Homo sapiens: one gene and its partner. The protein of the gene in region 2 purifies or fractionates together with the protein of the main gene of each other region. This does not show direct contact. Each region holds a gene or a part of one and is shown on either strand. Other genes may lie near its edges.

Region 1 (3,655 bases), on a different chromosome or scaffold from region 2:
CCCCGTCTCTACTAAAAATACAAAAAAATTAGCCAGCGGTGGTGGTGGTGCCTGTAATCCCAGCTACTCGGGAGGCTGAGGCAGAGAATTGCTTGAACCCAGAAGGCAGAGGTTGCAGTGAGCCAAGATCGTGCCACCGCACTCCAGCCTGGGTGACAGAGTGAAACTCCGTCTCAAAAAATAAAATAAAATAAAATGGAATGAAAAGGACTTGCCTAATGTTCCCTCCCTTTCCTCACACCTCCAAGTGCTGCTCACTCTGGCTTCTGTGCTCCCTGGAAATGAAGATTCAAAATGCCACACCACTTACCCTTTCCGGAGGTGACATCAAACACCACTCCCTTCACTGCCAAGTAGATGGGCTGATCTTCCTAGAAAGCAGGGGAGAAGCTGTGAAGAGGAAGGGAAGAGCCAGCTCTTCCAGTGCAACTTAGTAAAATCTTCTCCCATCACAAGCTGAGCAAAGAGCAGTGGGTCAAGTCCCAAAGGCTTTCTGTTAAGCCTGGTCCTTGGCGAGCTTGCCACCTGCCTGGGCAGCGTCATGCCCGCACACAGAAATTTGGAAAAGTCATAAAGTCTCATGACAAGAATGTGGCAATTCTCTCCTTTATAGAGAAAATCAGGGGCCAGGCACAGTGACTCACGCCTGTAATCCCAGCACTGTGGGAGGCCAAGGCGGGCGGATCACCTGAGGTCAGGGGTTCAAGACCAGCCTGGCCAATATGGTGAAACCCTATCTCTACTAAAAATACAAAAATTAGCCGGGCATGGTGGCACATGCCTGTAATCCCAGCTGCTCGCGAGTCTGAGGCTGGAGAATTGCTTGAACCCTGGAGGCAGAGGTCGTAGTGAACCAAGATCATGCCACTGCACCCCAGCCTGGGTGACACAGTGAGACTCCGTCTCAAAAAAAAGAAAATCAGGAACAGAAGCAACTTCATGGAGATGAAAATTCAAAAGAATAGTAAATGATGAATTACTTATCAGTCCAAATTTCCTTTCCTCTTCATCAATAGACATACACGGATGTGACTGATATGAGCAATCTATTTTATATTTTGCTTCTTACAGGTAACATTCCCTCATATAAACATTTCCACCAAAATGACTGTCATTTAAACAGCTCCATGGGGCCCCATCTTTTTTTTTGAGACAGAGTTTCACTCATGCTGCCCAGGCTGGAGTGCAATGGCGCAATGTCAGCTCACTGCAACCTCCACCTTCCGGGTTCATGTGATTCTCCTGACTCAGCCTCCTGAGTAGCTGGGATTACAGGCACCCGCCACCACGCCCCGCTAATTTTTTGTCTTTTTAGTAGAGATGGGGTTTCATCATGTTGGCCAGGCTGGTCTCGAACTCCTGACCTCAGGTGATCCACCCACCTAGGCCTCCCAAAGTGCTGGGATTACCGACGTGAGCCACCATGCCCGGCGTAGGGCCCCATCTTATATTAGTGATATTGTCTACCTATTTGTTTAGCTAGCTTTCTATTTTGGGTATTTGGGTGGTTTCCAATCCTTAGAACTATAAATGGCAGCATTATGAATACATGTTTCTATCAATTACTTTCTAATTTGGTGACTTATTTCATTGAGGCCTTTATTTAAAAATTTCTCTCCACCCAGTGAATGCATAGGAAAGTGCCCTATTTCAATATATGGAATTCCTGGGCCTAAGTATATGAAAACTTAATCACTGTTTATATTTTATTAGTTTGTCCTGTAACAACATTTATAGTGCTAGAGATATGTAAGCAATGCTGTTTCCCCACCGTTCTACTAACAATGGGCTTTACACTTTTTTTTGGCTCTATTAGCAGGCATAAAATGTTACCTCAGAATTTCCCCACCAAGAAAGAATTACACAAAAAAGGATGGCATGACTTTTCTAGCTTCCATCAAGTTGGGCTCAGGCTGGGACGATGGGTACAGTCCCAAGACACCCAAGACAAGATCTCTCCTTTGTCTCAGTGCCATCAGAGGTGCAGGGGCATCAGCCAGGTGGCTCACAGCCCAGGCGAGGGTGGGAGTCGCTGCTGGGTCCATAGGAATCTCAGGCTCTGCAAGCACCTGCTGCTTGGCCTTCTCTTTGGGGTGGGCCTTAGTGTTCTTGCGCTTGTGCAGCTTATGGTGAAGGGTTTTCATGATCCCATTTAACAGACAGAGGAGCTACTGAGGCTCAGAGAAGCTAAGCAACTTGCCCAAGGAAACACACCTCACTGCCTCATAACCACTCAGGCCTGCTTCTCTGCCTGTCATATGAGGGTAACGCCCACTTGCCTCGGGAATGCTGAGGAAAAGAGTGTACGTAATACCTAGCAGGCACGACACAGGAGCTCAGCAGAGGGCTGCCTTTTATTACTCCAAACCGGCTCCTAAAGACAGGCCCTAGAGGACTGCCATTGACTCTGTGGACACTTGCTCCACCTCATCTAACACGGGTCATTTGAAACGGCCTGGATTTCCAAGCCAGCAGACGGCATTTTTCTTTGTGATGATTTACCGCCTTTCCTTTACCAGGTTTCCTTATTCCTCAGCTTTGATTATTTATCAAGTGGGATTATGTATTTATATCAATTTTAAAAATATATTACAGCTATCATTTAACCCCAGTATTTTGTCATATCTTCCATTCTGTGGCTTTCTCCTTGATACTTCTTTTCTTTTTCCTTTTTTTTTTTTTTTGAGACAGAGTCTTACTCTGTCACCCAGACTGGAGTGCAGTGGTACAATATCGGCTCACTGCAACCTCCACCTCCCCAGTTCAAGCGATTCTCCTGCCTCAGTCTCCTGAGTAGCTGGGATTACAGGCACACGCCACCATACCCAGATAATTTTTGTATTTTTAGCAGAGACAGGGTTTCACCATGTTGGCCAGGCTGGTCTCAAACTCCTAACCTCAAGTGATCTGCCCGCCTCGGCCTCCCAAAGGGCTGGGATTACAGGCATAAGCCACCATGCCCAGCCGACACTTATTTTCTATGGGCAAACAGCCATATAAATATAACATTCACATACATAAGATAAACAAAAACATGCATCTTATCACTAACACTCTTTTCTTTTTTTGTGGGGGGGGGACGGAGTCTAGCTCGGTTGCCCAGGCTGGAGTGCAGTGGCACAATCTCGGCTCACTGCAACCTCTGCCTCCCAGGTTCAAGCTATTCTCCTGCCTCAGCCTCCAGGGTAGCTGGGATTACAGACGTGTGTCACCACGCCTGGCCAATTTTTTTTTTTTTTTTTTTTTTGTATATTTAGTAGAGACAGGTTTCACCATGTTGGCCAGGCTGGTCTAGAACTCCTGACCTCAGGTAATCTGCCTGCCTTGACCTCTCAATGTGTTGGGATTATAGGCATGAGGCAACACGCCCGGCAAACAATCTTTTTTTTTTATGAGAAGGAGTTTCACTCTTGTTGCCCAGGCTGGAGTGCAATGTCATGATCTTGGCTCATCGCAACCTCCGCCTCCCGGGTTCAAGCATTTCTCCTGCCTCAGTGTCCCGAGTAGCTGGGATTACAGACGTGTGCCACCATGCTTGGCTAATTTTTTTTTTTTTTGTATTTTTAGTAGAGATGGGGTTTCTCCATGTTGGTCAGGCTGGTCTTGAACTCCCAACGTGAGGTGATCTACCCGCCTCGGCCTCCCAAAGTGCTGG
Region 2 (3,655 bases):
TATTAATATTAAATGTCTACATGGTTGATCATTTAGCAAATATATATATATATATAGAGAGAGAGAGAGATAAAATGTCCTCTATTAATATAAATAAGACTGGTATTAATAGTGTCTTAGTCCATTTTGTGCTGCTATAACAGAACACTTCAGACTGGGTAATTTGTAATGAACAGAAATTTATCGGGCTCACAATTCTAGAGGCTAGTAAGGCCAAGATTGGGGGGCTGCATATGGCAAGGACCTTCCTGCTGCATCATCCCATGATAGAAGCATAAAAGGGCAAAAGAGCATGTGTGCACAAGAGAGCAAAAGAGTGAACTCACAGCCTCAAACCCTTTTATAATGGCATTAATCATTCATGGGGATGGTGCCCTCATGACCTAAATGCCTCCCATTAGGCCTCATCTCCCAACACTGTTACACTGGGGATTTTCAACACGTGCTTTCTGGGGGACACATTTAAACCACAGCATTCCACCCTGGCTCCCCAAATTCATGTTCTTCTCACATAAAAGACACATTCATGTCATGCAATAGCCCCAAAAGTCATAACTTTCCAGCATCAGCTCAGAAGTTCAATGTACACAGTCTCATCTGAATCAGATATGGATGAGATTCAAGGCAGGATTCATCTTGAGGGACACTTCCCTCTAGCTGTAAGCCTGTGAAATCAAACAAGTTACTTACTTCCAAAATACAATGGTGGAATAGGCAAAGGATAGACATTCCCATTCCAAAAGACACAAATAGGCAAGAAGAAAGGGATAGTCTTAAGTCAATCCAAAACCCAACAGGGCAAACAACACTAAATCTTAAGGCTCCAGAGTAATCTTCCTTGACTCCACATCCTACCATCTGGGAACACTGGAGCAGCAGTTGGGCCCCCAAGGCCTCAGGTAGGCAGGCCTACCCCTACAGCTTTGTTTGGTGCTACCCATGCAGCAGCTCTCACAGGTTGGTGTCAGGTGCCTGTGGCTCTCCTGGCTAGTATTTCATGCTGGTAGGTCTAGAGTTCTGGGGTGTTGGTGTGAGCCCACTCCTTAGGCTTTACTAGGCATTGCTCTAGGAGACTCTCTGCGGTAGCTCCTACCCTAAAGTTATGCCACACACTGCCCTAGTAAGGGCCCTCTGGGTTGCTCCACCCTTGCAACACGTGTCTGCCTGGGCCATCAGGCTGTCTATGACATTCTTTGGAATCTAGCTGGAGAAAGCCATGCATCCACAGTTATTATTATTATTATTATTATTATTTTTAATTTTTATTTTTTTTGAGATGGAGTTGGAGTGCAGGTTGGCTTGCAGTGGCGCGATCTCAGCTCACTGCAGGCTCGGCCCCCCGGGGTGCACGCCATTCTCCTGCCTCATATTATTATTTTTTGAGATGGAGTCTTACTCTGTCACCCAGGCTGGAGTGCAGTGGTGCGATCTTGGCTCACTGCAACCTCCACCTCGTGGGTTCAAGCGATTCTGCTGCCTCAGCCTCCCGAGTAGCTGGGACTACAGGCGCATGCCACCATGCCTGGCTAATTTTTTGTATTTTTAGTAGAGACGGTGTTTCACAGTGTTAGCCAGGATGGTCTCGATCTCCTGACCTCGTGATCCGCCTGCCTTGGCCTCCCAAAGTGCTGGGATTACAGGCATGAGCCACCGCACCCAGCCTGCCTCCACAAGTCGTGTACTCTGCATGTCTGTAGACTTAACACCACATGGATGCCACCAAGATTTGCTGCTTGCACATTCCAAAGCTGTGGCCTGAGCCACACCAGAGCACCCCTCTTTTTTTTTTTTGAGACAGAGTCTCTCCCTGTCGCCCAGGCTACAGTGCAGTGGCGCGATCTCGACTCACTGCAAGCTCCGCCTCCCGGGTTCATGCCATTCTCCTGCCTCAGCCTCCCGAGTACCTGGGACTACAGGCGCCCGCCACCACGCCTGGCTATTTTGTATTTTTAGTAGAGACGGGGTTCCACCGTGTTAGCCAGGATGGTCTCGATCTCCTGACCTTCTGATCCACCAGCCTCGGCCTCCCAAAGTGCTGGGATTACAGGCGTCAGCCACCGCACCCGGCCCACCTGAGCACCGTTGAGCCACAGGTGGGGTGAGCAAGAAGCACTGTAATGAAATGTGGCAAGCAGAGACTTCAGGCAGCCCTGAGAAGTGAACTCCAAGATCCAGAGGGCACACTAGTTCTCTCTTTTGATATACAGTCATACGTCACTTAATGACGGGTATTTTCAGAGAAAAGAAGTGTCATTAGGCAATTCTGTCATTGTGCAAACAGCATAGAGTGTACTTACACAACCCTAGACGCTATAGCCTACTACAGACCTAGGCTATATGGTAAACCCTATTGTTCCTAAGCTGTAAACCTGTACAGCATGTTACTGTGCTTAGTACTATAGGCAATTGTAACAATGGTTAGTATTTGTGTATCTAAACATACCTAAACATAGAAAAGGTACAGTAAAAGTACAGTCTAAAAGACAAAACGTGGCATACCTGTATAGGGCACATACAAGAGCTTCCAGGACTGACAGTTGCTCTGGGTGAGTGAGTGGTGAGTAAATGTGAAGGCCTAGGACATCACTGTACACACTGTAGACTTTACAAACATTGTTCACTTAGGCTACTCTAAATTTATAAAAAGAAATTTATTTCTTCAGTAATCAATTATACTTAGCTTACTATAACAGTTTTACTTTATAAACTTTCTAATTTTAAAAATTTTTTGACTCTTGTAATAACACTTGGCTTAAAACACAAACATATTGTATAGGTGTACAAAAATATTTTCTTTATATTCTCATTCTACAAGCTTTTTTCTATTTTTAAAATTTTTTAGTTTTTTTTTTTACTTTTTAAACTTATTTGTTAAAAACAAAGATGCAAACACACACATTAACCTAGGTCTACACAAAGTCAGGGTCATCAATATCACGGTCTTCCACACCCACATCTTGTCCCACTAGAAGGTATTATGTATTATACATAATTGTGTGTGCTATATTTTTATATGACTAGCAGCCAGTAGGTTTATACCATCATCATCAAAAACAGATGAGCAACACATTGAGTTATGATGTTCAATGGTTATGATACCACTGGGCAATAAGAATTTTTCAGTTCCATTATAATCTTATAGGACTACCTTTGTATATGTGCTCCTTCCTTGGTGAAAAGGTCTATATGTGGGGCATGACTGTATTTCCTTCTCCGAGGTCATGGCACCCTGTGCCTGTGATGGGAGGGACAGCACCAGTAATTTCCAAAATGCCTTCAGAGTCATTCTTCCATTGTCCTAATGAACAGCCTCTGGCTTCCTTCTATCCCTACTGATCTCCTTATCAACTGGTTGCTTGCCCACACCCTTGGTCTTCTCTCCTGAAAATGTTCTTTCATTCTCTACCACATGGCCAGGATGAGAATCCTTCAAATCCCTAAATTCTGTTTCCTTTTTAATTATAAATTTTATCTTTAAGTCATTTCTCTCTTATTTTCCTGTATGCAGTTAATATTTTGCTTAGAAATTTCTTCCATCAAATATCGTAGTTTATTGCTCTTACATTCTGCCTTCCATAAAGCCTAGGGTGTAGACACAATTCAACCAAATTCCTTGCCACTTCATAACAAGGCTGGTCCTTACTCCACTTTCCAA

Evidence for each region.
Region 1: the proteins of PANK1 (region 2) and NENF fractionate together in Homo sapiens (co-fractionation; one large-scale study listed by BioGRID). This does not show direct contact.

The regions. Positions count from the first base shown.
Region 1 is NC_000001.11:212,439,281-212,442,935, reverse strand, and holds part of NENF (neudesin precursor), read right to left. Parts: intron 372-3,655; coding exon 311-371; intron 1-310. UniProt on the Homo sapiens protein: Acts as a neurotrophic factor in postnatal mature neurons enhancing neuronal survival. Promotes cell proliferation and neurogenesis in undifferentiated neural progenitor cells at the embryonic stage and inhibits differentiation of astrocytes.
Region 2 is NC_000010.11:89,635,089-89,638,743, forward strand, and holds part of PANK1 (pantothenate kinase 1), read right to left. Parts: intron 1-3,655.